Regions from separate parts of the Homo sapiens genome. Here regions 1, 3, 4 and 5 are each linked to region 2. Evidence: fine-mapped expression QTL. A gene starts in region 2. Each other region holds a variant in brackets. All regions are shown on one strand. Distances are between the middles of the regions.

Region 1 (6,412 bases), 29 kb before region 2:
TATTATCCCATGTTGACATTAATTCTTGGCAAAGGTGGGGCTGTGGTCTTATGAAGCTGGTCTTACGAAGCTGGGTGTAGGTGTGAGTATACGTGAGAACGTGGCACTGTTTGCAATCGTTTGAGCTGAAGCTGCTTTACAACAGTATGCATTCTTTGGGGTTAGTGTGTTGAAAATGTCAGCTGAGTGACTTCCACCACCAGCTGCGCCCCTAACACCGTGTGGCACCGGGCTTGGGAACCACAGCTGTGGCCCGTCGTGCTGTCATCGCTTGTGGCTCTGGGTCCTTCCCCACCTGTTGCTGTGTCCGTCGGTGTGGCAGGGACCGCCGACTGGCTGGAACATATATGCTATTTCTGTGCATAGGATGTGAGTAAGTACATGCCATAGTAAGTCAGACCAGGATATGAGTCAGATCATATTATAAAGTGATACAAAGAACTGATCTTCAAAGCATTCTGGAAGCATTAATCCACGTGTCAACACTATTGTAAGGGAGCTACAGTTTGAAAGACACGATTACTAAGCAAAGGAGAGACGCTGCAAGACTCAGGTGAACAGAACTGGCTAAAGGCCTACCAATGAAAACAAATGCATATGGTGGGAGCCAAAATCCGGAGGCCTTAAAATTTAGAGGTAAAAAGAAAGAGTTAGCAGGACCACATATTTCTCCAGCATATTCAGTCAGAAATGGAGAAGCAGTGAAACACGGGCAGCTCAGAATAGCTGTGGAACATGGGCCTGCTTTATTATCCATACTATCTGCAGAGCAACCTTTCTGGGGCTAAATTAATGGTCCTCAACTGACTCTTAAAAAAAAAAATTGATTGGCACTGAGGTGTAAAGACACACATAAAAAGACGACCATCCACAGCACTATTTGTAAGCATAAAAACTGATTAACCATCATGATGTCCACAAATCAGCAAAATGAACTATATTATGTCACTTTCATGGAACCCAAGTAGCTATTAAAAGGAATGAAATAATCTGAATATACTGGCATGGAATGATGTCCAAGGTAGACTGTTATGAAGAAAAATCAAGGTGTAGAAAATGTGCATGGTAATCCCATTTCTATTAGAAATGTGTTTGCATATGCGCAGGAAAAAGTCTCTAAGAAGTGAGAGAAAACCATTAATAATTGTTAAATGTGACAGTGAGTTTTTTTTAAATTCTTATTCATTGACTGAATCCTTTGCCATAAACATCTATACTTTTATAATAGAAAATAAAGCCAACAAGATATTTATGAATAGCATTAACCTGTTTTTTGGTGTTTTTTTTTTTGTTTTTTTTTCATAATTGCAAGGTTCTTGGAGGCCCGGGAAAGGTGACCTTAATGGCATTCCATAGCTGGCAAGTCCCTGACTGAAACAGTGAAGGCACAGCAGGCACCCTGGGAGGCCTCGGCTCAGCATAGCCCCGAGCTCTCTGCGGGACCACGGAGCAGCAGAGATGGCATTCCCAAAATGCCAAGAGAAAGGAGGGCTTATTGGCCTCGGAATCCCTTTCTTGACCCCTGTCACGGGACCCTCACTGGCCTATGTAACTGCACTTCTGCTTTGTGAGCTGTGGGGTGTTCACTGCCTTGTCATAACCTGCGACCGTGACCCCACACAGGCTTCTGCTCAACCCTGGCATGCCCAGACTTCTCAGCACGGTGCTACCGACTTGCTGTTCAAGGGGTTGTGAAGAGTTCTCAGCCAGAAGTGATGGCAGCGATGCATCTGCTCCATCTCCTCCCTCCCAGCAACCCGCCTTTGTTTCAAGGGCCAGGGCAAGGAAAAGACTTGAGCTGCCTCTGGACCTGTGATGGCAGGAACCCATCCTGACCCTCCCGATCAGGCATTTCCTCTCCGTAAGTCAACTCTGTCCTCTGGTCTGCCCCTGATGCCCCCTTCCTCCAGGACGGAGGGAGATAGCAGGCCCACCGGTTTTTTGTTTTTTTTTTTTTTTTTGAGACGGAGTTTCGCTCTTTTGCCCACAGGCTAGAGTGCCATGGCATGATCTCAGCTCTCCGCAACCTCCGCCTCCCAGGTTCAGCTCTCGTGCCTCAGCCTTCCGAGTAGCTGGGACTATAGGTGCCCACCACCATGCCCAGCTAATTTTTGTATTTTTAGTAGAGATGGGGTTTCACCATGTTGGCCAGGCTCTTCTCGAACTCCTGACCTCAGCTGATCCACCTGCCTCGGCCTCCTAAAGTGCTGGGATTACAGGCGTGAGCCACTCTACCCAGCAGACCCATCTGTTTTGACTACAAAGCACAGGCCTAGAAGCAGCTATTGCCTCAGCCTTGTCTTGTGAAGGCTGGAGAAACTTATGCTTCGGCACAAGCATTTTCTATCCTTCACAGATCCCCTCTGAATGCTTCATAATCTCTCCCTACCCCACAGCTTCCCTTAGGTAATTCCTACTCCTTCAGATCCTAGTTCCAATGCTGCTTCCTCCAGGAGCCTCTCCCAACACCCCCGAGGCCAAGCCAGGTCCCCTCACACCTCGATACCTCCCATTGTTTACCCCACTCCTCATCTTCATTTACTCATGTGTAACTTGACAAATGTCTTTCTCACAGAATATAAGCCTCTGGAGGGGGCAGAGTCTTTGATGCTATGAACTCCTGGTTGACACTTGGGGCCCCTTCAGCTGCCCAACAGCTGTCCTGGAGGACGGATAGAATAATATAGGGACAGAAATCCTCTGCTCACAGCAGAGAGGGCCTCAGCCAGCACTTGGTGGGGAGGGGCAGGGACAGGCACTGACCTCGGCTGATGCGCTGCTTCTCCCCAGAAAGGATGCCGGGGCTGTCGATGA[C/T]GCTGATGCTCTTCAGGACCTGATTGGGGAGCTGTGAGCACATGAATCTGGAAGAGACGGATCAAAGGAGGGGTCAGAAACTGGGCATCACAGAGTGCTCCAACCATGGGGCTTCTTGGCCTCTCTGGGCTTACTGACATCTGTAAAGTGGGGGCCTGAAGGAGACTGACAGAAACTGAGGATGCCTAATGAAGTTGTTTGTGAAGTAGGAGCTTGGAGGAGATTGATAGCACCTCCATCCAGCCACAGAGAACAGATGCTGGCCCATGGGACAGGTATGAGAGGTGCACAAGCACCTGCTGCCATCTGCCACCTGATGCCTTTCTGTTCATTTTGATTTTAGCTAACATTTATTGAACATGCAGGTATCTTACAAATATCCTCTCATTTGATCCTCATATTGACCTCATGAGGTGAAGGAATTATGCTTAACATAAGAGAGGTTAAGTAATGCTCAGGGTCACTCAGAGCGGTGCCTTAAACCAAGGTCAGCCTGCCTCCAAAGCCATGGGCCTCACCTCTCCTGGCTCCATGCTGGCCCCTGCCCAAGCATCCTGGGCCTCTCCCCCTGGGAATCCCATGCCTTCTTCAGGATGCACTGGCCCACTGGGCTGGAGAGCCCCAAGCTCCCTGCCTATTTCCTAGCATGAAAGCTGAAGGGACTGGGGCCTGTTTCCCCATCTGATGCCCCAGGAACTTAGCATCCAGCCCAGTGTCCCCTATGGCTTTAGGGCCAGGGAGGGGCAGGCACCTGTGACACCCAACATCCTCCAGGTGCTTAGGAGTCTAGGGGAGCTGGAGAGTAGGTGAGGGGACCAGGTTGGGGAAGGCCCTGGCTGAGCATCTTTAGGCCCCTCTTGTTCCTCATTTGCCTGATACCATCTCCTCCTCCTGATCCTGGTCCCTTTCCCTGTAGTCACTGCCCTTGTATCCACTCCACGGAAGCAGAGTGCGGAGGAAAAATCTAGCCTGTGGGTCAGCAGACCTGGGTTCAAGTTCTGCCCAGCGTTTCCTGATAATCTGCTATGGGACTCTGGGTAAGGGCCTCCCTGCTCTGGGTCTTGGGTTCCTCACATGAAAATGGTGGCTTCCCGACAGGGTCTGGCGATGTCCTTTTAGCTTTCAGACTGAGTAACTCCAAAAGTGATGGCAGGAAGTGCTTTGTTACTTCCACCCTGGGCACCAGGGTCTGGGATGGACCTTTGTGAGGCACTGTGCATGTTTAAGGCAGAAAGTGTAGAATGCCTCTCCTTTTCCTTTACTATGGATGGCTGACATCTGTGTCTGTGTGGGCAGAAAGCTAAAAGCTCAATTCTTCCGTACGATGGAAGTGGTGGGGATTACTCACAAAGTAAAAATGCTGGGAATGCAGGACAGGGAGGCCTGGCCAGCCTCCACAGTGCACATGTGGACACCACAGCCCTGGGTATGAGCGGCCGTTACTGACATTTCAAAATCACTTTCTCTGAAGGGGCTTGGGATACGATTTTTCACACAGTCTTTCCTACATTTTCAAATCGGCCCAGGAAGATATAGAAAAAGACATTAGGATCCTTTTGCAGGTGGAAAAGTTGAAGCACAAAGCAGTTATGACATTCTGAGGCCATGCTGCTAATGCACGGCTGGTTGCAGACTGCAACCTACTGTTTCTGATGTCAGTGGGGTGGAATTTAACCCACAAAGTTAAAAACCTCATAACATTAAAAGTAAAGGGTCAAGTTAGTGGAAGAGAAGCCCCCAATTTCCACCTGTCTGCAGACACTTGTGCACAGTCCCCTCCTGTACCCCAACCTTTAAATAAACCCTACTACCCAACACGGGGAGAGGTTTGTGGGAATAAAGCACATGAGGCTCACCAAGCATTCTTTGTAAGTTCACAGAAAAAACCCCACCATGCCATTATTCAATTCTCTAGAATTGGGGTGGGAACAGGGCTCTGGGCACATCCGTGGTGAACCTCGTTTCTTGTCAGGAATGATTGTCTCTCAGTGCCGTCCCATTCTTTCCATCAGATGGCCCGAGACATCTGGCGGAGCTGAACATATCACACCTACGTGAAACAATTTTCTGCAAACCATTCCCGTGGACAGGCTGATCTTTTCCCCAAACCACAAGCTCACACTCAATATCCATTTTTCCAAAACAGCCACCCCCTAGATTCTCAGGTGAGGCTAACAGAGGGATTCAAAATTTGCACACTGTTCACTCCCTGTGTATAAAGTGACAGCCTTTCCACAGCTCCCAGGCCTCCTGACATGACAGCAGAGGCCAGGCACGGGAGCCACAGAGCAAGCCACCGTGAGATGTGCTGACGTCACCACATGGCATACAAGCGGGCAAAGCGAGGAGCCCAGGATGGCTGAAAAAGAGAGGATGAGGAGCAGCAGGTGGAGGCGGAGGGAGAGCTTTGGCTGGGGCACCTCAAGAGTGGGCAGCTGGGGTTTTGGGTGCACAGCTGGACTCTGCTCCCTGAAAGACAGTGTCCAGGGGTGAGGGGCAGGCAAGAGAACAGAAAGGAGCATTGAGACCCTGTGGTGCCACGCTCATGCTGCGAGGTGACAACTGCATATGAATGCATTCGTACGAAGTTATGCTGGGATCAGAAAAAATCCTAATGGTGTTCTAGCAATCATGCCTCATGCTTCTTCTCTGAGAAAGGGAGGCGCACGGCAAACGTACTTGCTGTGTGTATAACAGCAGTGCAGTGGTAGTCGTAGCCCAGTAGTGAAGAACCTGGGCTCTGCAGTCAGCACTGCCAAGTTCATGTCCCGACCCCATCAACTCACAGCCGTGGGACTGGGCAAGGTATGTCGTGTGACTCCTCTGCGCCCAGTCTCCTCCTTTATAAGCAGAGGTTCACAGCCCTACCTGTAAGGTTGTGGTGAGCCTGGAGTTAATGTGCACGGAAAGTGCTTTGAACGGTGCCTGACACCCAGTAAGGGGGCCCTGGCCGGCCCAGCTTATTGAAATGCTTCCAAGCACAGATTTGCTGTCCCAAGATGGATTTCCTACTCCTTCCTGGGGAGATTAACACAAGGAGGATCTGTGCCTTGCCCTCTACATTTCACGTAAAATATGCAGACACATGCTGGTTCAACCCAGGAGCCTCACATGGCCCTCACCCGAGGATGACCTGATAAATGTTGTCTTCTGAAGTAAGAGAAGAAGACGGAGCAACTGAAGATCCTAGGCTGCCCCCTCAACTCCATATCCTCTCCACGTCTAAGGAAGGGCCAGGGGTAGCAGAGATGGGGGATAAAGTAATGGTCCAGGCTATGAGGTCTCAGGCAAGCTGCTAGGAGTCCTGCCACACAGTAAAAGGAGAGAGCAAAGCCAGGCACCATGACTCTCCCTGTAATCCCAGCACTTTGGAGGCTGAGTGGGGACGATCTCTTGAACCCAGGAGTTCAAGACCAGCCTGGGCACCATAATGAGACTTCGTCTCTACAAAAAATAAAATTAGCCGGGCATGGTGGCATGCGCTTGTAGTCCCAGCTACTCAGGAGCCTGAGGTGGGAGGATGGCTTGAGCCCAGGAGGTCGGAGCTGCAGTGAGCTTTGATGGTGCCAGTGCACTACAGCCTGTGCAACAGAGTGAG
Region 2 (6,412 bases):
CTGACCAACATGGAAAAACCCCATCTCTACTAAAAATACAAAATTAGCCAGGCGTGGTGGCACATGCCTGTAATCCCAGCTACTCGGGAGGCTGAGACAGAAGAATTGCTTGAACCCGGGAGGGGGAGGTTGCGGTGAGCCGAGATCATGCCATGGCACTCCAGCCTGGGCAACAACAGCGAAACTGTCTCAAAAAAAAAAAATTGTGTAGTTTGCATTCATTTCAAATGGACTTCATACTTTTTCAGTGGAAATGTCTTCCTTCACAGCACCTGGGGCCAGGGATTTTCTGGAGGAATCTTTGAAATCTGTTTTCCTCAAGTTTTGGACACAAGCCTGGGTGAGCTCCATATCCATCCTTCCTCGGCTAGTACAGAGTCTAAGATGACATGGTCACTTTCCCCCATGCCCATCTCCCCTCCTTCTCTGGCCAATTCTTTATTGCCAGTCAAAGGCAGAAGAGCCAACAGCAATAAGAGAAGATTCCCACCATGTCAGCACAGGTTCTGTGTCATCAGTGACCTCTTGGAATGTGCAGGAAGCCAGGGAGATAAGAATCTATGGCTATGTAGATTAGGTACACCCCACAGCCAAGTATGAGCTTCTAGGGCCCAATCGCTAGAAGCAAACAACCCAGACCACTAACCAGGCTCTAACTAAGGCAGGATCCAGGATGCTCAGCACCCTGGGCCAACCCTTCCGCTCAAGATGAATCCATGGTTCATTTACAGTGTCTGGGGTGATATTTAATTCCAAGTTCACAAGTCTCCAGGGTAGCTGCCCTTTTGTTTGGGGATTTCCTCCCGGGTGCTAAATCACTTCCTCCTAGCTCCAATCTGAAAAGCAATTCAGGTCTCCTGTGGCCTCACCAAGCTTCCTGCCCACACTGATTTTCTTCTAACCTCACTGGTCTACCTTGTGTACATCACCTAACAACAAAGCCACTTAGCTCAAGGAAAGCCTCAAGAACAAATGGCTTCCTAATAAGGTGATTCCTCCCTCACCCTAGGGTGGCCCACAGCTCCAGCACCTGCTGAGAGGTGGCCAATTTGGATGAGGTAGCTGCCAGGAATCAAATCTCAGAACCCTTCATAAAACTGCGCTTAGCTATTCCACAAATTTCTCCAAATAATGAAACAGAGAGAAGAGTGAGAATATAATGAGAGAGAAATCTGGAAAAATACAAAAGATAAATTCATGTTCCTGTGAGTTGTATTCATCTTCCTGGGAGTTGATAATCAGGCTGGCTAGCTATCCAGTCTATGGGAGCAGAGAGAGGGCTGCATTATCTCCAGGTTGGCACAGCATCTAGCAGGGGCTCCCTGATGACACCTGGGCACAACAAGGACCTCACAGCAAAGACAAACAGGAGGAAATGCCTAGGGTGTGGGGACATGCCACCACTAAATTACAAAAATATATGCCTTTCTTCTTTGTATGTTTCAACAGTACCGCTTCCCACTCTTGTACCACTTGGCCATAACACTTTATTATCCCTAGTACCTAAAAACTAGACAGTATTACTGAGACCTTAAATGTGACATTTGTCATCTTTCAAGGTGCCAGTTACTGTAATACAGCTATGGTTCATTTTGAGTGTCTGGGTGACGGTGACATATTTAATTCTATTTTTGTCTTGTCCATAAGCACCAAATAAAGCAATTTTGAAATTACTTTCTTCACACTCAATTTATTATCTAGAACGACATTTCAATACACAGTATATTTGTTTTGTGGAATTCATTCGCAGTGTATCTGGAGGCCTGGATTTAACATATTTCCTGTAGTGATAGCTACTCTATTTGTAGGAACTATTTAGGTCACTGGAGTGGAGAAAAAGAGGTCGCTACTTAACAGAAATGGCATGTATCCAAATATAGATGCAGTTTTCTCAACACCTGTTGCACATCAAATGATGAAGAGATTGTTACAATTTCCAAAACCCTGGACCAAAACCTTAAATGATCAGCACTTTGTTTCAACTGATACACGGCTTAAGTCAGAAAAATAAGTTCTTCTTACCAAAAACAGTGAGCCTAAATATGCTGGCTGCTTTAGAAATAAAACAGGTGATCAACAAAGCAATCTGTTTCTGTCTAAATAATTTCCCAGCAAAAGTCACTTCTTTTGAAACTATATGATTTGAACCACAGGGTATGCACAGTGATTGTGTGCTTTCAGAAACACGGTAAGCATGACAAATATTTTCAGTTGTCAAGGGTAAGCGAGGAGGGAATGACCCACCTAAGAAATGGAAACTAACAAATAGTAATATGACACTCCCCCTTAGTTCCACAGGCTGGTGCGGCTGCTACACGCAGCTCACTTCCTACGGGCGGCTAAAGGCGGTGCATGAACTGAACGTAGGCGGCCTCTTTATCCCCTCCCCACAACACTGTGGGGTGGCACGTAAAGACCTCAAGGGAAGGGGGCCTGGGCGATACGCTCTCCTGCTGCCATTCATTTGTTCAAGAAATAGTTGAACAAATGAATAGTTAAACAAACTCTCCAACTAGGACTCTGTCCCATTCGGATACCCTACGCCTCTCCCCCCATTTCCATCCCTAGGCATCACTCCCTCGTCAAGAATATGCTGATTATGGCTCGCGCCCCCTCTCTCCCTTGGACCCTCCCGCCAGGGCGACCGGACGAGGCCAGCGGGAGCAACGCCTTCCGAACCGCAAGGAAGGAGGGCTCGGAGTGCGCAGGGCGCGGGTTCGCGGGACCCTCCAGCGCGCGGGGCTGGCCAGCCGGGGCGGGGCCGAGGGCACCGGGCGCCGAGCTCCGGGAGGGGTCCCCGAGGTCGCGCCGGCCGGGAGGGGCAGCGGCGGGAGGCGGCCGACTGCGGCGCACACGTGGGGAGGGCGGAGCGGGGCGGGAGCCGGGCGAGGGGCGGTGACGGTACCTGATGAAGGTGGTCTTGCCGGTGCTGTACTGGCCCACCAGCAGGATCATGGGCTTGTTCTCGAAGTCGGCGTCCTCCAGCGCAGGCGAGTGGAACTCGTGGAAGCGGTACGCCTCCTCCAGCGGCAGCACCTTGCGCAGGTAGAGCGAGCGCAGCCCGCCCGTCACCGTCTGCACCGCGTCCGCGCCGCCAGCGCGTTCGCGCCCGCCCGCCTGCCGCCCCATCCAGCTGAACATCCTGCCGCCAGTCCACGCTCGGATGGGACCCTGCTCCGGGTTCGACTCTCCCCGGCTCGCACTGAGCCGCCCCGGCCGCGCTGGCCGCCGCCCGAGGAGGGCCCCGCCTTGTGCTGCCACAGCCAGTCTTCGGCCGCTACGTCACGCGCGCTCGCCCACTATTCAGACGAGCTCTCTCAGGTCCTTCCTGATTGGATCTCTGCCAGAGAGGGCTGAAGGCGTCAGCCAATTGAGAGGAGGTTCTTAATGAATTATTGATGACGGAGTCATTCTAGAGGACTGGGCGGGGAGATGGTGTCTTCCCGGCCGGGTGGCACTGACCGGTCATGCTCAGGGCCCCCTTCTGGTTGCCGGTGCCTCACCTCTGGCCAGGTGGCATCGGCTTCCGGGTAAATCTGAGCTGCCCAAAGCGAGCCTCCGGAGGCTGCTCCATCTCCTGGAACGTTTACTCATTCAGGCCTCTGGACGTCGATACTGGGGATGAAAAGTTCAGAAAGTGGACAGGCAGGTTCTGTCTTCCCGGGGGCGGGTGGTTATGACTCCGTTTTACAGGCCAAGAGACCCAGGCTCACGGGCATAATTGACACAATCTTGAGGGGAAGTGGACTGGAATCTATTTGAGTAGCCGTTTCTCCTACTTCTCCACATTGCCCTCACTAAATTCTGGATCAGCTAAAGGCTTTTTCCCCTTAGTTTTCTTTATGTGTTTTTCTGTAAAGCCGAAAATTTAGTCATTACTCTCATTATTACATTATCCTCATTATTACAACTTTATTTCCACATATTGACATGTGAGTCATTGTCACCTCCTAGCTGTTTTTTGTTGTTGTTGTTGTTTTCTGAGACGGAGTCTCGCTCTGTCGCCCAGGCTGGAGTGCAGTGGCACGATCTCGGCTCACTGCAACCTCCGCTTCCCGGGTTCAAGCAATTTTCCTGTCTCAGCCTCCTGAGTAGCTGGGACTACAGGCGCTCACCACCATGCCCAGCTAATTTTTGTATTTTTAGTAGAGATGGGGTTTCACCATATTGGTAAGGCTGGTCTTGAACTCCTGACCTCAGATGATCCGCCTGCCTTGGCCTCCCAAAGTATTGGGATTATAGGCGTGAGCCACCGCCCCTGGCCTGTTTCTTTTCTAGGTTAAAAGGATACTCACTTATCTAAGTTGAGATTGGGGGAAATAATCACCTTTTGTGTCCTTGATTGTAGCTTAGGAATATTTCTTAGTTGTTTTAGAGCATTTCTCAAGTGTGATCCATGGGGCCACCTGCATATATGCATTTATGAGCTGGGATGCTTGTTAAAATGCAGATTCCTGGTCTTCAGTCCAGACCTACTGAGTTAAAATATTGAGGAGAGATGGAGCTCAACAGATGCCCTAGGTGACTCTGATGTGGCCTAAGTCTGGGGAAACAGTACACCCTGCAGTACTTCTCCAACCTAACAGAAATGCGGATTCTGATTCGGTAGGTATGGGATGGGGCCCATGACTCTACATTTCTAACAGGCTCTCGGGTATTGCCAATGCTACCCATCCCTGGACCATACTTGGAGTATGAGAGAACAGGACTTTGCATCAAAAGATCTGGGTTTGAACCTTGACTATGTAAATTAATGGCTGTGTGATTTTAAATGTGATGAGTTACCTCTCTGCCCTAGTTTCCTTAAGAGCAAAATGGAAACTCCTTTGGAGTTGTTGTGTGGGTCACATAGTTGGAGGGAATTGTATGTAACTAGGGAAGTGAAAAGAAAGCCAAGGGAAAATAAAGTTAGACATCTGCCTTGTGTCAAAATAAAACAAAGATTGAAATGTAAAAAGAAAATGAAACCACTGCACTACTAGAAGAAGGTACAAGAGATTTATACAATTTGGCGGTGGAAAAGCCTTTCTAACCAACATTAAGGACAGAAATTATGAAAGCAAAGGCTGACATATTTGACAACAAAAGTAAAAGCTTCGATGTATTTTTTTAGAATACATAAAAACAAACGGATATAAATACAATCTTACCATATGATGCAGAAATCAGCTCCTTAGTATTTACCCAAATGAATTGAAAACTTATATCCACAGAAAAGCCTGTACATGGATGTTCATAGTGGCTTTATTCATAAGTGCCAAAAATTGGAAGCAACTAACATGTCCTTCAGTAAGTGAAAGGATAATCTGTGGTACATCCAGACAATGGAATCTTATTCAGCACTAAAAAGAAATGAGCTATCAAGCCATAAAAAGACACAGAGGAAACTTAAATGCCTATTACTAAGTGAAAGAAGCCAATCCGAAAATGCTATGTACTGTACGATTTCATCTTTATGACATTCTGGAGAAGGCAAAATTATGGAGGAAGTAAAAAGGTCAGTAGTTTCTAGGTGTTAGGGAGAAGGAAGGAATGAACAGGCAGAGAACAGAGGATTTTTATGGCAGTGGCTCTACTTTTTATGGTACTATAATGATGGATACATGTCATTATATATTTGTCAAAACCCACAGAATGTACAACACCAAGAGTGAATGTAAGTGATAATGACTCGTGAATTTCAGATCAGTTTTAGGTTCACAGCAAAATGGAGCATAAAGTACCGAGAGTTCCCATATACCCCCACCCTCCCCGACACACAGCCTCCCCCACTATCAACATCCTGAACCAATGGAACATTCGTTACAATCAATAAACCTAACCTAAATAGATACATCACTAAATTAACTTAAAATGGAACTAGATATAAAACTAATATAAATGTAGAACTAAATGTAAAACTTAAGATTATAAAACTTCTAGTAGAAAACACGGGAGAAAATTGTTGTGAACTTGGGTTAGGGAAAGATTTCTTAGGTGACACCAAAAGCACAATCCTTAAAGGAAAAAAAAGTTGGTAAATTGGATTTCATTAAACTTGAGAACTTCTGACCTTTGAAAGTACTGTGAAGAGAATGAAAAGACAAGACAAGGCACAGAATATACTTGCAGATCACATATCTGATAAAGGACTTGTATCCAGAATATTTAAAAACTTCTTAAAACTTAATAGTAAAAACCCCAATTTTAAAATTTCCATTTAAAAAATGGAAAAAAGATCTAAACAGATATTTTACAAAAGAAGATGTATGGATGGCAAATAAGCACATGAAGACATGTTCAACATTGTTGTTTGTTAGGAGAATGCGAATTAAAACCACAGCAAGATACTACCACATACCTATTAGAATGTCTAAAATTAGGAAAGACTGATCATGCCAATCATTGATGAGGATGTGGAGCAACTGGAACT
Region 3 (6,412 bases), 64 kb before region 2:
GAGGCTGCGTCAGGGCCTGAGAGCCTGCTGTGATATGGCCTTACACTAACTTACTAATTCACTTGGCTTGTGTGAATTGAGCACTCACCACGTCCTAGATGCTGGGGATATGGCAGTGAACAGGGCATGGGTCACTGACCTCATGGAGCCACAGACTTACGTGGGAGAGAGATACTAAATATCAGACATCAGATAATTCAATTACATGGAAGCACAACAGTGCTCATATTGTAACAAGAAACATGTGTCCTTACAGTGGGGTTGCTGTCAATTATTTTTACCCCCATTTGTTCATTTTTTCTGTTTTTTGACAGGGTCTCCTCTGTCGCCCAGGCTGGAGTGCAGTGGCGTGATCATGGCTCATAGCAGCCTCGACCTCCGGGCTTAAGCCATCCTCCCACCTCACCCTCTCAACTGGCTGGGAACACAGGCATGAGCCAACCACACCTGGCTAATTTTAAAATATTTTAATGGATATCGGGTCCCACTATGTTGCCCAGGTTGTTCTCCAACCCCTGGACTCAAGCAGTCCTCCCATTTCAGACTCCCAAAGTGCTGGGATTACAGGCGTAAGCCACTATGTCCAGCCTCATTTGTTCATTTTTTTGTGTTGATTTATTCCAGGGGCCTAGAACAGTGATAGCAGCAGGAGGCAGAAAAATGCTGAGGCAGATAGGGGTGGGTCTCCAGTGAAACCCTATCTTCAAGCCAAAGGCAGTTTAAAGCCTGCAGGCCAAGCTACAAGTCAAATCCATGGACTGGATTGAGAACCTGTCTTTCCATTTGGCTGCTTTTCTTTGATTGATCCTCACCCTTCACCTATTTTACATATACCTACCCTTCCCTAATTGTTTTTACACTGTTATGTCCACCTTTGACTGGTGCCTTTGTTTTAACCTTTTTTGCATACTCACAAATCAATCAGCATGCACTCCTCTATCCTGTGCCTATAAAAACCCCAGACTCAGCCACACTGGGGAGATGACCTGACTTCAGGAGAGACAACCCAATCTTCCCATCCCCTCTTCACTGAGAGTTGTTTTGTTGCTCAGTAAAATCCTCCACCCTCATCACTCTTCAATTGTCAGCATGACCTTATTCTTCTTGGATGCAGGACAAAAGCTTGGGACCCACCAAACGCAGGTACCCAGAAAGGCTGTAACACTGGCCCTCTGCCCTCACCATTGCAGGGTAGCCGTGCCACTCAACAGAAGCAGTGGTGGGGTCGAGCTGGACCGGAGCCATGGGCCAGAGTGGGGCAAGAGGGTGACTGAGCTGCTAACATGATGCACAACTAAAAGAGCTAATTAGCACACTGTAGCACCCCCTCTGGGGCTTTGGGGTTGCGGGCATCCCTGCCTGGGCACTGCCACGTTCCCCTTGGGGTGACACACCTGGTCTGGCTGCAGACCATGCACAGAGCCTGCTCCTATGTCAGCACTTGGAGTGGCTGGCTGGATCCTGCACTTGCTTGCTCACCCACCTTCCGTGGTGCTAAGGTACTGGGCATAGACCTGAGTCCAGGTGATTCTCAGCAAAGGCTTGGCCCTCCTTGTACCCTCCATCTCAGTGGGCCATGGCTGCTCCTGAGATCATGCTTTCCTTGTTGCCTTCCCCCAGCTCAGAGGACCCTGGGTGTCTTCTGACCTGGCCAGCCCAGGCTAGCTTTGTCATGAGTAGCTCTGGTCCCAGAGCCTGCTCCCTACATTATCGGGCTCACAGGGGACCAGCAGGAGAGGCCTGGCAAGGGAGGCCTCTGTGGAGCCCCAGGGCTCAAGAGCAGCGTCTCCCTGTGGCAAGGCACTGTAGCAACTTCAGGAAGCCAGCGAGGCACAGAGGCCCCAACTGGGCCACAGCTCAGGCTCTGTATTTCTTTATAACTTTCATTTAGGTCAAGAAACCAAGTTCCCTTCTGAAATATCTGAAGGGTACAAGGAAACAGCTGTCTTACTCCTTGGTCATGGGATACAGGGCATAACCAGGGGTGTGAATGGGGAAGTTGCCCAGGGAGACTGCTCCTGGAGGCCACAACAGCCCTCCAATACCACCTGGTGACCAGAAAAACCCAATTCAGCTTGTGAGCACAGGAATACCCATTTCACTGCTGGAAGAAAAGAGACATTTCTCTGTTGTGTGTGCGTGTATATATTTTTTTGAGACGGGGTCTTACACTGTTGTCCTGGCTGGAGTGCAGTGGTGCGATCTTGGCTCACTGCAACCTTCACCTCCAGGGCTCAAGTAATCCTCCTACCTCAGCCTCCCGGGTAGCTGGAACTACAGACATGCACCACCACACCTGGCCAATTTTTTTGGATTTTCTGCAGAGACGGGGTTTCACTACGTTGCACAGGCTGGTCTCTTGACTCCTAAGCTCAAGTGATCTGTCCGCCTTGGCCTCCCAAAGTGTAGGGATTACAGGTGTGAGCCACTGCGCCCAGGCTCTGTGTGTGTGTGTGTGTGTGTGTGTGTGTGTGTGTGTGTGTGTGTGTATATATTTATTTATTTTTTGAGATGGGGTCTGCCTGTGTCACCCAGGCTGGAGTACAGCAGTGCGATCTCAGTTCACTGCAACCTCTGCCTCCCAGGTTCAACAAATTCTCCTGCCTCAGCCTCCAAAGTAGCTGTGATTATAGCCACCACACCCGGCTAATTTTTGTATTTTTAGTAGAGACAGGGTTTTACCATGTTGGCCAGGCTGGTCTTGAACTCCTGACCTCAGGTGATCTGCCTGCATCCGCCTCCCAAAGTGCTGAGATTACAGGCATGAGCCATCACACCCGGCCCTCTGAATATATTTTAAAATAAATACAGCTAAAGCATATTGGGTCAGATCAAATATATTAGACTGATTCACTCTGAATCCAGGTGTAAAGAGCTGTCATCAAAACAGCAAGAAAAACCCACCTCTGAGTTAGTGTATAATTTATATAAAGCTTGCATTAAAAAACCCCTTAGGATCAAAGTTCCCCTCTCATCACCTGCTGGCCCTTGCCTCTTCTGCCCGACCTTCCCTTCTCCCTGTATCCTCTCTGCTTTCACCTTTCCCTCCTCCTGCCTCGGGCTGTACCTGCTTGCAGTTTTTAATCTATGCTGGCTTCAATGCTGTCACTCTGTGGCTCAAGGCAAAAGATGGTAACTGGTGGTCTCTGTGTGCAGCCCATATGCAGGTGGGCTTTGTTTGTCCTACATAGTATTTTTTTGAGCCTAAATGTGAAAATCAGGTGATCTGACATACAAATCCAGATTTCCAGCTTCTCTTGAGCCTTCCAGGTCTGTAGTCCCACAAGGCAGTGACCACTGGGCTAGACGGGGCT[T/A]CTGCATTGTCCAATCTGCCCTGCCATGAGACCCCTGACATGTTCTTAGCACACCTCGGGATGGTTTTCTTCCTTGCTGACACATGTTTCTTGGAACCTTCTTCTCTATCAAACGTGGGAAAACCAAAGGCAGCCAGAGAGGGTGACAGAGTTTCTCTTTCGCCTGGCCTGCTCCACTGTTTGCGTTACTGGGTGGTGGCTGCAGGCATCTGAGTTTGTGGCTCCTGCTTTACAGAGAGGACTGTGGCCCCCAGGGCAGAGGGGTCCTTGCAGCAGATAAGAAGACGGCCAGCCTGGCTCTGTGAGGACTGTCAGCCCAGAAGCCAGATGGGTGGCCTCGCTTGTGAGGACACGCTCGTCTAACAGCAGTGCAGAGAGGTAGATATGCCGGTCAGGGCAGGACGGCTGAATGCAGCACCCATTGTTGCCTGGCTGGAGCTGCCCAGCCACAACTCAAGAGAGGCCTTGACAGCAGGCCAATGGCTGCCCAGCACCAGCCTTTAAGCACAGTCCTCCCTGTGCCCACGCAGTCCAGCAGCGTCCGCAGAGCCCCACAGCCCCTGCTGGAGCCCTTGAGCCTGCAGCAGCAAGGCTGCCTGAGCACATAATCCCACGGCGTGAGGCAGGTCAGGGCAGGGCTGGAGGAGGCCGCCCAAGGTGACCCTGAAGGCCACTCCCAGCTGTGATTCCCTCACAGTTCTGGGATTCCAATGTCACCGCAACATCAACCAGCCTCCTTGGACACAGTCTAAGAGGGCTGCTCACCTGACTTTCTCATGGGAGCTTCATTTACCTTTGGCCATGTGTTTCCTTTGTTTACGCATTTTGGAAGACAGGCAATTTCTGCTTTATTCATAGCCTATTATCATGGATCACCATTAGGAAGATGCGTTGTCCTTGATCCTAAACCATGGGACTCTCATTTGTCTCCAGCAAACAGCCAGACAATGTGGCACTGCACCTCTGCCCTCTGCCCGTGACATTGTAGTGGGCTCCCAGTACCTGCATAGCCTTGACCTCAGGGAAGTCCCCTGCAGAAATCTGGTATTCTCGCTGTAGCTGAATGTAGATTTCCGGTAGCCTGCTGATAAGCTCTCTCTTCTTGTTTTCCTTTCCAAATACACTTGGCATCTCCTTCTTCAGGTAGCTGATGATGTAGGCATGCACCTGGAGGGGTATAGATCAGGCAGGGAAGTGTCATTTAGAATTGCATCAGAGAAGGAACAAACAAGATTGCATCTTAACTCCATCATAACACATAACAGGTACCCACACAAACCAGGTCCCAAGGACAGGAGGAGGGGAGGGTCCAGGGGGAGTGGAGCTGTCCAAGGGTGGCCGGAATGTGGCCAGACTTGGGGAAATTCTACGGCTACTGTTCTGTTGTGCCTCTGAGTGGCAATTCTGGTGTCTGTAGGGAGTGAGTGGTATGGGTGGGGCCTGGGTGGGAGAGCTCTTAGTTCTGGCAATTAACCAGAATACCCAGGAGAAAGTTTCACCAGGCTGGTGCCTGGGAGCAACAGGAAATGAAACTGGAGGCTGGCATCAATGGCTGATCAACATGGAAATCTGTACCCAGTGAACGATGAGATGAGAATCCCCATAACCCCCCTGTTATGGGAGGTTTAGACTCTGAGATCTCTACAGGTGGAATTAAAGTCATTCTGCACAAGACCAGCTGCCTGGGATCAGGCTGGATGGCAGAAGATCCCCCTGGGAGAGGAGCCCAGAAGCCCCAGAAACCTTGATCACTGGGGCTTGGGGTAGCCAGCAGGCTGTCATTGGAGGGGCGAGAATCTGGCCTCAACATTTCCACTCTTCTACTGATTTCCAACTTCAGGATATTAAGAAATGTTCACTACAAAAGTTCTCTTTGTATATATATATTTTTGAGATGGAATCTCGCTCTGTTGCCCAGGCTGGAGTGGAACAGCGTGATCTTGGCTCACTGCAACCTCCACCTCCTGGTTCAAGCGATTTTCCTGCTTCAGCCTCCCGAGTAGCTGGGATTACAGGTGTGCACCACCACGCCTGGCTAATTTTTGTATTTTTAGTAGAGACGGGGTTTCACCATGTTGGCCAGGCTGGTCTCGAACTCCTGACCTCAGGTGATCCACCCACCTTGGCCTCCCAAAGTGCTGGGATTACAGGCATGAACCACCATGCCCGGCTACTTTGTATATCTTGAACTTCAGAGTAATTGTGAAGTCAAGTAAGTAACTAAAATAAGAAAGGATGAAAAACAGAGTGGTGATTACAAAAAGAAAATGACTATGTAGCAACGGAAAATCCTATTAAAGAAAACAGACTTCTACTGTAATCTTGTAGAAGTTGAAATTAAATAAAGGGGGTAAGCAGATACATTCCATAGCTCAGCTGAGGGCCCGTGTGTGGACACATGCTGGACACAGCCAAAAACATTTTGTGAGGATTTGGATGCTAACCTAAGTACCTAATGCAAGGTCTGACATGCTGAGGTCAGACAATGTCAACTTCCCATCTGCACAAGGGTCGTTTAACAGAAGCATGCACTGTGCAGCCTGGCTACCGCTGAGAGGATGGTCTTGGAGAGATGACGCTAAACCTTTCTGTCACCAGCAAACTTGTTTATGTACTTATTTTTCAAATGAAGACAATTGAAATGATTTACAAGATTCTTAGAGATAACTTGAGAAACCCGAAGTTTGGGATCCGTTATTTAGAATCCTGGGCTTTAACCGCTGTGATGAGCAAGTGGTAAGATACCAACTCCTTTGCCTCCGACAGTGAATGCCTGGCTTGGTGTGGGTGGGCTGGGGAGGGCCAGGGCTGAGGGAGCACCCTTGGACTGGAGGAGCTGCCACGTTCCATCAGGGAGAACCAGCTGCTCACCAGCTGTCCTTGCATCATTTCCTTGGCCTCCACCTTCCTGGAAATTCTGGATTGGGCCTATGAGTATGTTCTCTATGTATACCTATGTATACCTCTCTCTTCTGTGCTCAGGCTCACCCCACCCTGGAGCCACCCCAAGGGAAGCAGGAGGCCCCCACAGCTGCTCAGTCTCCCAAACACAAGGGCTTCTTATTGAGACCACCCCCTTCCCTGCTCTGGGGCCTAGC
Region 4 (6,412 bases), 73 kb before region 2:
TTAAACATTATATTTTTATTATTTATTTATTTATATTTAATTCTTTTTTAGAGACAGGGTCTTCTTAGGTTGCCCAGGCTGGTCTTGAACTCCTGGCCTCAACGATCTTCCCACTTCAGCCTCCTGCATTGCTGGGATTATAGGTGTGAGCCACCATGCCTGGCTTACACAGTATAAAGGGAATGCATTGGCCCACACAGTGGAAAAAAATATCTAGTAGGAATAGGAAGGACTTCAGGTGAGGTTTGATCCAGCAGCTCAAATGTTGTCACCACAGGCCTGGATTCCTCTGGCCTTTCTCAAGGTCTCTTTCATTTTCATGCTCCACAAGATGGCTTCTGCCAGGCTGACCTCCCTCCCCTGACCCCAGCAGCTCTGGACACCCCTCTCAGTGCCATTTATATTGTTGCATCAATAGGCTCATTTCTATATACTGCAAGGTTCAGAGAAGACAGAGTATCTCTCTCAAGAGTTCTAACATAAGTCTGGGGGTCCTGGCTCTCATAGGCTTGAACAGGGCCACATGTCCATTCCTGAGCCAATATTTGTGACCAAGGGGATGTGGTCAATCTCATCCAAACCTCACTTGAAGTGAGGGTGGGAGGAGGAGTGCTCTGCAAGGAGACTGTAGGTCTGGACCACCAAAAAGGTAGATGGGTTGGTGGGAAAAGCCAGATGCCTACTATGGTAGTGGGCGGGGGGAGGGCACACTGGCAAGGTACAGCAAGAGGCAGGGGCAGTGCTGGACAGGCAGGGGCTCCTCCCTAGCACGACTGGAGAAAGGACTCCTGTGAAGCGGTCACCTCCATGAGTCCCTCCTGTCCTGGCTTCCAACCACTCTGAAGTGGGGCTTTTGTCCACAGACCTGGCCTCTGCTGCCTACCCTCTTCTGTCCCCACCTGATGGGGCCGCTTTCCTTCTGAAGCGGCTGCATTTTGGGTTTCTCTCCACAGGAAGAGTTGGGGCTCACAGGCACACCCTCTCCCTAACTCTTCTCCCCCGGTTCAACCTGGATCCAGGGATCCACACTCTGCTCCGAGAGGCCAGCACGCAGCCACTGGAAAATGAGCCAGTGGGAGAGGGCAGCTCCATGTTTATTGATCAGCAGACTATGTCTTTTTGTTTGAAACTTCTAAATAAGATTACAAAAAGAAAAAAAATAGAAGCATTGCGTATTAACTGCATTGGTTAACCAACATTGGAACCCAATACTCTTGTATTAGGCCCGCATTTACCTGAGTAAACTCAGTGGTTTTCTGTCCTAAGCATGCTTGCCTGCTACATCCCATGGAGAAAATAAACAGTGAAACACTTTCCTCATCTTCAAGGCAATTGTCTCAGGCATCCTCCAGGCATCATGAAGGAGGGTGAGCGAGGGTGCGAGGTGGAAAGGTCCAGGCCGCGGCTGTGACTCCCGCGGGTGAACCACAGCTCCACAGCCCCAAATCCAAAGATGCTCTTGCTGCAGCACGACAAGTGTTCAAAAGAGAACCAGGCCCAGCCCGGAGAAAGGAAAGCCAAAAGCCAACTGAATGAATGACCCTCCCCCAGAAGAGCAACCCTGCCCCCAGGCCATCCAAGTGCGGTGAGTTGAGAAATGAATTGACAGACGCTGCAGGGCTGGAGCAGGAGGCGGAAGCAGGTTGGAAGGCTGTTGTGTGCCACCCCTCCCTGGGAGCTGGGGAGATTCCCAAGTCTTAGTGCAGTGTTTCTCTACAAACGGGGTCAGGAGACCCTCACTGGCAGGCTGACAACTTGGAAGCAGACTGTGGGAGCAATAGGCTGGAGTTTTCATTTTCCCTTTAAACTCAAGACCGGAAGGTTTGTGTTATGCGATACCATATGCTGTGTAGAAAACAGGGCCTCAGCTTCTTAGATGTTGTAGTTCTAGAGTTTAGGTACTTCCACCCTCTCTCCTATACATAAACACTCTGTGGAAGAGGTTCTTTGAAAATTGGGGTGGTGCAGGAAGGGCAACGGTGATGGTGAGCAGGCCCCAGGGTCGGCCCTGCCGCCCTGCCGTGTGGGGTAGGGAGACAGCTGGTGGTGTGGACACATTCACAGAACTTTGTACTGGTCCTGGGAAGATACAAGTCCTCACTTGGTCGCCATCCCTCATATTTTCTAGTGTTTTCTTTTCCAGTCAACTTTTCTTGATGAATGACTGCATGTAAGAGGATATTAAGAAAAGTGGCCAAATGATTTCCTTTTTTTTTCCTTTCTCTCCAAGAACATTACCAGGTGCCAGCAGGGAAAGGACTCCGCTGCCTGACGCCTCTCCCACCTGAGAGCGCAGAGGTAGGGAGATCACAGTGCCTGAGAGGTTTTCCTCCACGGAGAAATCAGAGACCTCAACCTGCTGCCCTCTAAAGCAGCTTTCTGTATCCAGACAAAACTTACATATGTACACGTTGTTTTAAAACGACATACTCATGTGACACACATGTATATAAATTCATGTTTATATATGACAATTGAGGAGAGTTAAAGAACAAGATAATTCTGGATGGAAAAATCAGTTTGCCTGGGCATCTGTAAACCTTTGGGCAAGTGAATT[C/T]CCTCTTCTCTCTCAGTTCACCCTTTGGTGACCTCCACCGTGGCTGCAGACTTCAGGTGGTCCTCACGCATTCACAGAACTGTCTGCTTAGGTTACAGCACTTTGGGAGGCCGAGGTGGGTAGATCACGAGGTCAGGAGATCGAGACCATATTGACCAACATGGTAAAACCCCATCTCTACTAAAATACAAAAATTAGCCGGGCGTGGTGGCGGGTGCCTGTAGTCCCAGCTACTTGGGAGGCTGAGGCAGGGGAATCACTTGAACCTGGGAGGCGGAGGTTGCAGTGAACTGAGATTGCGCCACTGCACTCCAGCCTGGGTGACAGAGACTTCCTCTCAAAATAAAAATAAAAATAATAAAATAATAAATGGTTCTTTTCTATGCGTCTAATGAATTTAAGTGCTTGTTAAGACTAAAAACCATGTTATGCATTTCCTGCTCTTAAAACTAAATTATGTAGAAAGTAAGCTAGGGAGTGTAAGGGTAGGCATCTGGATATAAATGCTTCTCCCAAATCAAGATTTTCTCTTCAATCTGTGCCTTTGACCCTGTCACCAAAGGCAGGTGACAGAAAAAAAAAATTATGTGCCTTTTGGAAGACTCAGTGGGACGGTTCTGATTTCATTCACTTCTGGTGCCAGCAGGCCCCCATACCATGTGGCCATTGCTGTTTCGTGTCTCTTCCTGCATAAATAATGCAGAGAGGCCATGCAGGTATGCAATTTTCTGGAGATGAGGCAGGGAGATTTGCAAGGAAAAGTCACCTACCTCCCCAAGCTGGTGCCCACAGAGGGGGAGGCACCTCCACCTGACGCAGGTGTCTGAGCAGCAGTCCAGAGAGGTTTACTCAGGGGATTTGGGGAGCGCACACTCTGGAGCAGAAGTACAGGTATGTGCCCGAATCCTGCCTCGTGATGGGCATTCATGATACGAACCACACAGCCTTTAAAGAAAAGGTTTTATATGAAAGGTTCCATTTTGTTTCTGTATAAAGGCTTTTATCCTGTAAGGAAAAAAAAAAAACACAAAACCCTAGACATAATAAATGCCTGTTTTCTACAAAAACAATGTCTAACTCTGGGTGGACTGATCTCTTCTCAACAGCCCAGGGCAGGGCTGGTCCCTCATTCACCTGTGTCCACAGGGCCGAAGACACTGCACACACTAGGACAGGATTTGATTGAATTTAAATCCTGCCACCCACCAAGGAGACCTCGGGATATTTAATGTTTGAGGGCCACACTAAACGATCACTGCAGAGAACCACCTCTTTTCTTTACTGTAGTTTAAGTATGATAAGTGGGCTTTGCTATTACTTATTGGAAAAACCAGTAAGAAAAGCTAATTTTCAGGCTTCAATGTGATTTGACATGCAAACGGGAAGTTTTGCCAGGGGTTAATAAAGGTTGTGAATTCCAAATTCCTAGCCGAATATGGCTTTGCTGGTAAGCCCCCTGGAAGGGAGGTTGGGAGGGCTGACCAGATGGTCATCGGGGCACTGGGATGGAGGCACGCTGGGGCCTGACTGCCTGCTCTGCTGGAGACTGCAGAATGGATGGCAGATCCACAGTGCATCCCCCTTCCAAACCCAGGAGGCATCTGTCGCCTTCTCTTTGGTAGACAGTCTGGAGACAGCAGAAACCCTCTGCTCTATTTTTTTGCCACTCTAAATATAGCAGAAAACAAAATAAAATAAATAAGATAATCTTTGCTGCCTCCAGGTGCCCTCTGAGGGACAGACAGCTGCTCCAGAGTTGTTCATGAGGACAAAAAGCCCAGGCAGCCTGGAGACCCAGCTGCTCTGGGTGAGCCTTAGCTCACTTCCTGTGGTTCCTGGGACTTACCAGGCCCACCCCCATGCGCATTTCTCCAGGCAGGTTCTGAGGACTCTTTGGACAATTTCTCTTTCTTCTCAACCCTTCAATCTCCTAATCCACCCCCCTACCCCCAATATTTTCATAGAAACTAAGGGAATTTTGGAGGTGAAAGAAGTCATCTAGTTTCCAGTGTCCACCCTCCCCATTCTACAGATGGGGAAACCAAGGCACAGAGAGGGCAGTGCCTTGCCCAAGGTCATTCGGTGAGTCAGTGGTGGAGCAGGCCTGAGGCCCAGGTCCCCCAGTTCCCACCCCGTTCTGCAGCCCACCCCTCAGTCGGCCTTGGGCAGGGACTTCCTGTGCGAGGGGGGCACGAGGTGGGGGGGCAGGCTGCTGGGCAGCTCGTAGCCGTCGAGCTTGATCTTGATGAGGTGCTTGGCCAGCGCGAACTCCTCCTCATCAAGCATGCCGTCGCAGTCGCAGTCGGCCAGCTTCCAGATCTTGCCCAGGACGCTGTTGGGCAGCTTGGAGGTCACCATCTCCTTCTTGGCGTTGACACCTGATATCTTGCCATTGATGGGCGACAGAGTGTAGAAGAGCTCGTCGTAGACGGGCTTGTCTTTGGCCACGACCCACTCCTCCTCGTCGGCGCCCTCCTTGGCACCCTCCCCGTAGCCCTGGTTGAAGGGGCCCTCGGTGGTGCCATCGAAGGCGCCGCCCTGCACCAGCTGCGTGGGCGTGCTCGTCTCCTCCTGGCTGATGAGGTTCATGAGGGGCGAGATCTTGTTGCTCAGCATGTTGTCCACTGCCTCGATCAGCTTGGGCTTCAGCGAGTGGAATTTGGTGAAGTCATAGTTCTCAAGCTGTTCCTGCAGAAGGACAAACCACAGGATGGGTTACATGTGGTCTCTTCAGGGGGAAACAGTTGGGGGCCACTGGAGGGAGACTAATTCTGCCCCAGGCAGACGTCCCACCCACTACTCAGGAGTGCACTCTTTGGGAGCTTCCCACATCCAGATGTACCACATATAGGAGTGGTTGTTTTGGAACAAGAAACAAGTGTTTTTCCTATGGCAGCCAATCTCTGCTGGTGGCCGCATGAGCGACAGCAACCTCCGAGGACTCTGAGAAACCTTCTTTCACCTGCCTTTTTAAAAATGCTCTAGAGTTAGTATTCTATTTCTCAAGGGATTTCACTACACACTTCAGCCGATCTTCATAGCAATCCTGGGAGGAAGGAGGGGCAGGCATTTAGAACCACATTTTACAGAGAGCTGTGAGGGGCTGTCTGGCAGAGTCAAAGCAGAGCCCCTGTCTCCTGGCTCTTGACTAATGCTCTCTGTGCTGGAACACAGAGCTGTGACAGAAGGACTATGTTTACATAAAACAACTAATTAAATACCTTGTTTTCGGAACACGTAAAAAAATGTAGTGTAGGACAGCTTCTTAGTGGCTCTAACCTCTTATGAATGAGCTGAGGGCGCTACTCAACAGGAACCCCGTAGGACCAGCCCCACCAAGTACGGCCTGACCAGGGGCACCTGTGCTACCCCAGGAAGGTATCGAGGCAGGGCCACGGAGACCTTGCATATACAACATAATCATCATGAATCCACTGTCATTTCTAAAATATGGACAAATAAGCAAAAGCTGGAACTTGTAAGAGCAGGGAGTAGGGCTGGGGAGCACGAGGGAATAAACGTAGCTGGTAAGCCTGAGTATCACTGGCCAGGTCAGGACATATCTTAGCTCTACCTGTTGAGTGAGGCAGCCTGTCAGCAGACAGAGCAGCAGAAGCACAGGCTCTAGAGGGGGCCTGGGAAACACTGTGACTGCCCAACCAGGCTGGGGCAGACTACAGGATGCCACAGAGGCTCTGTGGATGGCACCGTAGAAACTGACCTTCCTACCTTGGTTCTCCTTGGTTACTCCATCCATCCATCCATCCATCCATCCATCCATCCATCCATCCATCCATCCAACAACCCACCTGTCCAACTAATCCTCCAACTAACCATCCATCCATTCAACCAACC
Region 5 (6,412 bases), 41 kb before region 2:
TGTCTTCTGAAAATGTCATTGTGGCAGAGAGCAAAATGATAGCTATAAATCAACAACTGCAGCAAATATTTACTTAGCTCTTACTACATTCCTGCACTGCCCTGTGAGCTCCATATCACTACAATCTTGTAATCCTTGCAACAATCCCATGAAGTAGGTACTTTTATTACCCCCATTTTACAGGGGAGGAAAAAAGACTCAGAGAGGTTAAGTATCCGACCCAAGGCACACAGCTGTTTCTCAGGGGAGCCCGGATTCAAACCCAGGGACTCGGATCCTAGAGCCTGTGCTTTCACCCGCTGCGCTGCACCATATGTGTACCAGGATGGTAGAATCAGAGGTGAGTGTACTTTATTTTCTCCTTTTTGATTTGTGGTTTCCTAAGTGTTCTACAATGAATATATATTATTTTTATATCAAGAAAACAAATATGCATATTGTAAAAATTATTGGCCCACTTGCATTATTATTGAGGAGGTTGTTCTTTTTCTTCTACAATGGTGCTTCTGGTGAAGGTCTGGATTCCAGCATTTCCCTGCCAGAGGCTATGGTGGGTGTGCCGAGCACCACCCTGAGGGGGAAGCAGTATCTCAGCAACTACACCCCCGAGGAAGAGGCAGTCCCCAATCAGCGGGAGCAATGGGACCTGCTGATGACAAAATAAGCCACAGAATGAATGGCTCTGCTCCACTGGCCTTCTCTCCTCCCTGCCCCCTTTTCCCCAGCTGACCAGATGCAGGGCAGTGGCAGGGAGGGGCTGATACCAAACCCGGTCTGGGAGACTGCCCGGAGGGAACACAGGTTCCCAAGCTCCTTTTGGAGAGGCTGGATGTGAGTTCACCTCGAACCTTTCAGCTGGTAATGGCCACCTCTTGGAGAATGTAACTGGTTACCAGAAAACCCCAGAGGTTGTCTCCCAGTACCTAGCCTAAAGTGGGTGTGGCCACAGAACCTACCAAAATTTAAATAAAAGCAAGAACTAGGCGTGTCCAGGGATGGCGTTGTGCTGTTTATCCGCTCTCTGCTCTTCCCACTCCTCCTTCCTTTGGGATTTTGTCCAAGACTCTGTAAATTAATTTTTCTGTGCCTGTTTCCTCATAAAATAAACAAGCTAACCTCACAGCCTGTCCCTCCTTCCTCTGGGGGATATGTGACAATAACAGATGGGTGAGCCACATGTCCCTGAAGGCCCCTCCAGGGCAAGGGCGGGAGAGCCCCACATCACAGGTTCGTGCCACGCCACAGACATGGGAACAGAGGAAGGTTCCACGCCAGTACTCGGCCCACTGAACGCTGCTGCTTCTGGGCATGTGACCAAGTGAAAGGGAAAATTGGGTTTCGCATCTCACTTTCCATCTCAGATTAAATACCAGATGAAGAAGCAGGCCCATTTAAAGAAGGCTGAGCCCTGGAGAAAGACAGCAACATGGTATTATCAGTCATTTTAGGCTCTTTGCTGGAGAGGGAAGTTGGTAAAAAAACCTACCAAGAAAATCCTGTAAGTCCTGGAGCCTGGCTTAACAATTTCATTCTGCTGGGCCTCAGTTTCTATACCTGTGAGTCAGATGATCAAAAAGGATTCTTTCTAGATCTTAAATTTTAGCTATATAGGGTGGTTCCAAACAGTAAGCTTCTTTGAAATAAAAAGCCAGATTCCCAGGAAAATCGATTTAGCTCAGCGTCTGTATAGTACAGACACGAACTAGTTACAGTGCCAGCCTAAGATGACCCTTCAGATGGCTACAGTAGACCCTTCAGATGGCTACAGGAATACTGAATGAACAACTCTAAATGACACAATTATCAAACAGTAAGTTTCATTTTATTACATCCCTTCTACTGGATTCATGTGCTATATAGCATTTGGGCCAATTTGAAGGTCCTTGAATGTTTCTATAGGTGTAATTAGTTGCCCCAAAGTTTAACTTATTGTCATCCAATTCCAAACAACTCTATACTGAAAGAAACTATCTGAGGAAGGGTTGTGGAATGTATGACTTCCAAGGATGCTTAAGAAGTCACCCCATCTAACCTTCTGATATTATTATATATTAGGATGAACAGATCCAGGAATCCCGTGTCACGCACATGGAAATTGTCCATTCCTCATTTTTCAAGTGGGCTTTGTGTATAAGTCAGGCTAGAAAGTCTCATACAATATGTCTATAAATCAGACGGAGTTGGCGTGGCAAACATTACTTGCACTGAATTTTCTTGAGGCAAAATGCCAACAGACTCCACCCAAATGTGATGAGGTCAAACATTTATAAGCAAGGCTTTGACCGTGACAATGCATCTTGTCATTCTGTGGTTCAGAAGGGCAAAGGTAATGTTTCTTCAGGCTACAGTTTTCTAAAGAGAAATGTTAAACCAACGGGATGACAACTGGGGTCATAAAGGGCTAGAAAGCAACTTCTGACCTGAAGACCCCACCCCTCGCCCTGCCCTGTTCCTCTTTTCAAACATCTTGGCATTGCACAAGTGTCCTGCATGCCTGTGGACAACAGCTGGCACTGCAGACCAGCTCTAGCAATTAAGTTATCAGCTAACCAGCTCCTCAAGCCAAACTATTACTCAGAGACAGTTATTTCTGGGCTTATGTCACAGATGGAAAGAAAGACCCAGTCAGTGGGAACCATGGGAATCCACACGGGGCTCCTTATAAAAAAATGACTCACTGATTTTGCTAAAAGTAGCCCATGTAGTTACCAACAGTATTTCAAAACAGTCAAATACCTCCAGAAAAGGAAATACTTTAAAAAGGTATACATGAAAAGATGCTCAACCACACTAACCATGAGGAATGAAAATTAGAATCATAATGAGATGGTGGGCATGTAAACAGGCATGCCTTCTACAGTGGCATTTTTGGCACCAGCTAACATAATAAAAAGACCGCCGCTCCTTTTGATTCCAAAATTCCACCTCTAGGAATGCATCTTAGAGTTACATCTGCACATTTTTTGGATTAGTCTCTATTTCATTTATTTTTTTACATTGATAAAGAAAAATTGTATATATTTATCATGTCCAACATGTTGTTTTGAAATATGTATACACTGAGGCTGGGTGCAGTGGCTCATGCCTGCAATCCCACCACTTTGGGAGGCTGAGGCAGGTGAATCACTTGAGCCTAGGAGTTTGAGACCAGCCTGGGCAACAAGGTGAAACCCCATCTCTACAAAAAATGCAAAACATTAGCTGGGCATGGTGGTGCATGCCTACAGTCCCAGCTACTCAGGAGGCTGAGGTGGCAGGATCACTTGAACCCAGGAGGTCAAGGCTGCAGTGAGCTGTGATCGTGCCACTGCACTTCAGCCTGGGTGACGGAGCTTCGAGATCCTGTCTCAAAATAAAATAAAACATAAAATAAAGTAAAATTAAATTAAAATAAAACAAAATTAAATATGCATTCAATGTGAAATGGCTAAATTGACA[G/A]TGCAATTAGCATATGCATTACTTCACATACTTGTTTTGTTGTGGTAAGAACACTTAAAATCTACTCAGCAATTTCTTTTTTTTTTTTTTGAGACGGAGTCTAGCTCTGTCACCCAGGCTGGAATGCAGTGGCGCAATCTCAGCTCACTGCAACCTCCACCTCCCAGGTTCAAGTGATTCTCCTGCCTCAGCCTCCTGAGTAGCTGGGATTACAGGCGCACGCCACCACGCCTGGCTAATTTTTGTATTTTTAGTAGAGACAGGGTTTCACCATGTTGGTCAGGCTGGTCTCCAACTCCTGACCTCGTGATCCGCCCACCTCAGCCTCCCAAAGTGCTGGGATTACAGGTGTGAGCCGCCGCGCCCAGCCAGCAATTTCTTTTTTTTTTTAAGCTCCTCCCTTTTCAGCAATTTTCAAGATATATTTGCACGTTATCGTGCCAACTGTATACACTTGCACCGTACATGCTAAACTGTGTAAATCCACTGTGGCACTGTTTGTAACGGCAAAAGATTAGGAACAGCCTGAATGTCACCCACCAAAAGGATGGCACCTATTAATTCTGGTCTATCTATATGATGGACTGCGGGAGGCAGCTCCGAAGTACAGACATGGACAAGCTCCAAGATTTACTATAAGTGGGAAAATCAAGACACAGGGCAGTGGAGCGAATCCCGCCAGGGCTCCACGTGAGTGGGCGGGTGAGCTGGGAGAAGCCCCAGGGTCTGCAGGCAGGGTCTGCTCTGGGAGAGGAACTGGGGGATATGGGTGGTACAGACATTCTTCACTATCTTTTTGTAGCCTTTTGTCCCAAGCACATACACACCTACCCACCGCAGGGTGCTTCAGAAAGGTGAAACGCTGCATACATGGTCTGATTTGTGCTTTGCATCTCGATTTGGATTCCAACAGGAGGCAATTTTGAGAAAGAGACTAAGATTACAGGTGAATGGAGGTTTCTTGAGGAAACTGCATCAGGGCATGTGTGAGAAATATCCCTAGATACAAGAAAGAGGATTATGGCAAAAAGAATTGGAGGAGTGCCAGAAGCCGGGCCCCTCAGCCACACCCGGGAACACTGCTCCCGGGTCATTCTCTTCAGCAGGTTTCCCACCTCCAGCCCTTGTCTGCACTCTCGTGGCTTTCCATAGCTCTACGGTCAGGCCCAAATACTTCACGCACCCTCACCGCCCCTGCTTTGGATCTCTGGAAGAGCAAGGCCCTTGTCTGAGTCCCAGGACTCGGCCATCCTCTGCCCTCCCCTGGGAAATGCTGAGCGCTTGGCCGAGAGGGCCCTCTGAGCTGGGTCCGTCTATTCTGGGACCACCCCAGTTCTATAAAATGAATCATGACCGCCCCTATCACCAGTTATTAATCATGATCCATGTTAAATGGTTTACACATGTTATCTTCAAAACAACCCTGGGAAGGAAAATTCCCTCACTTTATAAAAGCGGAAAGAGGCTCACAGGGCCCCATGCTGGGATTCAAGCTCAGGTCAGCCTCCTCCAGGGCCCACAGGAGTGTGCCTGCATCTCCCCACCTCCCTCTGTCTTTCTAAGGAAAATACAGATGCTCCCTGAAAGCCTTGTTATTTTCAGCGTTTCCCCAACCACAGGCTTGTTTGGATGGTCGAGATGCCTGCCTGCCTGCCGGGCACAGGTACATGAAACCTGAATTCAAGCCACACGTGTATCCTGGGGAGGACCTTTTGCTGTTTCCCTCTCACTCTGAGCTTCATAGATAACAGGAACGGCTGATATCTATGGAGCACTTAGGTATGAACACAGATCATTCAGATTCTCGTAAGATCCCACTGTACGAGAGAAAGTACCTTCCCCTGTTTTAGAGCAGGGGAAAATGAAGCTCAAAGAGGTGAAGTAACTCGCCCAGGTTGCCCAGCTGGCAAGGGAAAGAGCCAGGGACAGGGAGAAACGTGCCCGGCCAGTGTTTCTCGGCATGGATTGCCACTGCCTCTCTTCCACCTAGAATCCTGCATTTATAATCTTTCCCTCCCACCTTCTAGGCTGGGGGTTCCCCACTGGTGCACAGTGATTAGGAGGGAGAGAAGCTTTACCACCTCTAGCAACAGGGATTGAGGCTGTGTAACAGGAATGTCCCCATAAAACCAGGGAAGGTTATTAAACGTTTCAAAGTGTACCTGAAAACTTAAAAAAATTCCTTCTTTATTTTCATTAGGGGTTCCTAAAAATCCTAGCTTCCGAAGTAGGCTAGGCGGGGGTGCTCCTGCAAGCAGTGAGACACAGACAGAGGACCCAGCATCAGGCCTCACGCCCTCCCTGTCAGACGCCCATGAGGCCGACAGGGTCACTTGGTGACTCCTGCGGGACAGTCACCTCTGCTTCCTTCCAAAGCCCTGCCCTGGAAGGAGGCTGGTTAGTCACAGAGCCTGCCCCACCCCATCGTCTCTCTCACTCAAGTTCTCCCCTCCGTTCTCTGAGAGGGCAGCCTTCACCCTCGGGCATACAGAGATGCAGGACAAAGCCCAGGTTGGTTTCGGTAGGTTCTCCAAGTTTGCCAGCCCCTTCTTTCACTTGTTTTGGGGATGGCAGGGTATGTAGGAGGGACAGGCTCAGGCTCAGGAGTGGTGGCTCAGCCCTAACCCAGATTCCTCAAAATGGGGCCCCCTGTATCAGAACCCTCTGGACCCTGCCCAGATGCCCCTGAACCATGTGCCAGGAAGTTTTTTTTTTTTTTTTTCAAATAAATAAATGGAGTTTTGCTCTGTTACCCAGGCTGGAGTACAGTGGCACAATTATAGCTCACTGCAGCCTCAAACTACTGGGCTCAAGGTTCTCTTGCCTCGGCCTCCCAAGGAGATAGGACTACGAGAACACACCACCACACCCAACTAATTTATTTTATTTTTTGTGGAGACTGGGTCTCTCTATGCTGCCCAGGCTGGTCTGGAACTCCTGCCCTCAAGTGATCCTCTCGACTCAGCCTCAAGTT

What was found.
Region 1: its variant is fine-mapped to the expression of EHD4 in thyroid (GTEx, PIP 0.92).
Region 3: its variant is fine-mapped to the expression of EHD4 in whole blood (INTERVAL, PIP above 0.99).
Region 4: its variant is fine-mapped to the expression of EHD4 in cerebellum (GTEx, PIP 0.98).
Region 5: its variant is fine-mapped to the expression of EHD4 in whole blood (TOPMed, PIP above 0.99). The same link has a PIP of 0.9 or more in iPS cells.

The regions. Positions count from the first base shown.
Region 1 is chr15:41,940,304-41,946,715 of GRCh38, forward strand. EHD4 (EH domain containing 4) reads right to left here. Exons shown (of 6, transcript NM_139265.4): 3 at 2,764-2,861. It overlaps LOC124903477 (a long non-coding RNA gene), which reads left to right and starts at 2,804. Exons shown (of 2, transcript XR_007064603.1): 1 at 2,804-3,089. RefSeq lists an enhancer at 2,073-2,930. The variant C/T (reference allele first, on the strand shown) is at 2,815.
Region 2 is chr15:41,969,354-41,975,765 of GRCh38, forward strand. EHD4 (EH domain containing 4) reads right to left here and starts at 3,204. Exons shown (of 6, transcript NM_139265.4): 1 at 2,906-3,204. The coding sequence starts at 3,141. PLA2G4E-AS1 (PLA2G4E antisense RNA 1) reads left to right here and starts at 3,410. Exons shown (of 4, transcript NR_120334.1): 1 at 3,410-3,645; 2 at 4,451-4,605. RefSeq lists an enhancer at 664-883 and silencers at 2,646-2,915, 3,016-3,085, 3,126-3,255.
Region 3 is chr15:41,905,383-41,911,794 of GRCh38, forward strand. It overlaps EHD4 (EH domain containing 4), which reads right to left. Exons shown (of 6, transcript NM_139265.4): 5 at 4,317-4,481. Among named protein-coding and RNA genes, the nearest start is that of EHD4-AS1, 13 kb to the right of the region's middle. The variant T/A (reference allele first, on the strand shown) is at 3,315.
Region 4 is chr15:41,895,937-41,902,348 of GRCh38, forward strand. It overlaps EHD4 (EH domain containing 4), which reads right to left. Exons shown (of 6, transcript NM_139265.4): 6 at 1-5,245. The coding sequence ends at 4,709. It overlaps LOC105370792 (a long non-coding RNA gene), which reads left to right. Exons shown (of 4, transcript NR_135681.1): 3 at 1-1,585; 4 at 2,231-2,879. Among named protein-coding and RNA genes, the nearest start is that of SPTBN5, 5.1 kb to the left of the region's middle. The variant C/T (reference allele first, on the strand shown) is at 2,558.
Region 5 is chr15:41,928,167-41,934,578 of GRCh38, forward strand. The region is part of intron 3 of EHD4 (EH domain containing 4); the gene reads right to left. It overlaps EHD4-AS1 (EHD4 antisense RNA 1), which reads left to right. Exons shown (of 4, transcript NR_120332.1): 3 at 184-340; 4 at 516-1,120. Among named protein-coding and RNA genes, the nearest start is that of EHD4-AS1, 10 kb to the left of the region's middle. RefSeq lists enhancers at 748-1,251, 1,214-1,293, 1,314-1,443. The variant G/A (reference allele first, on the strand shown) is at 3,439.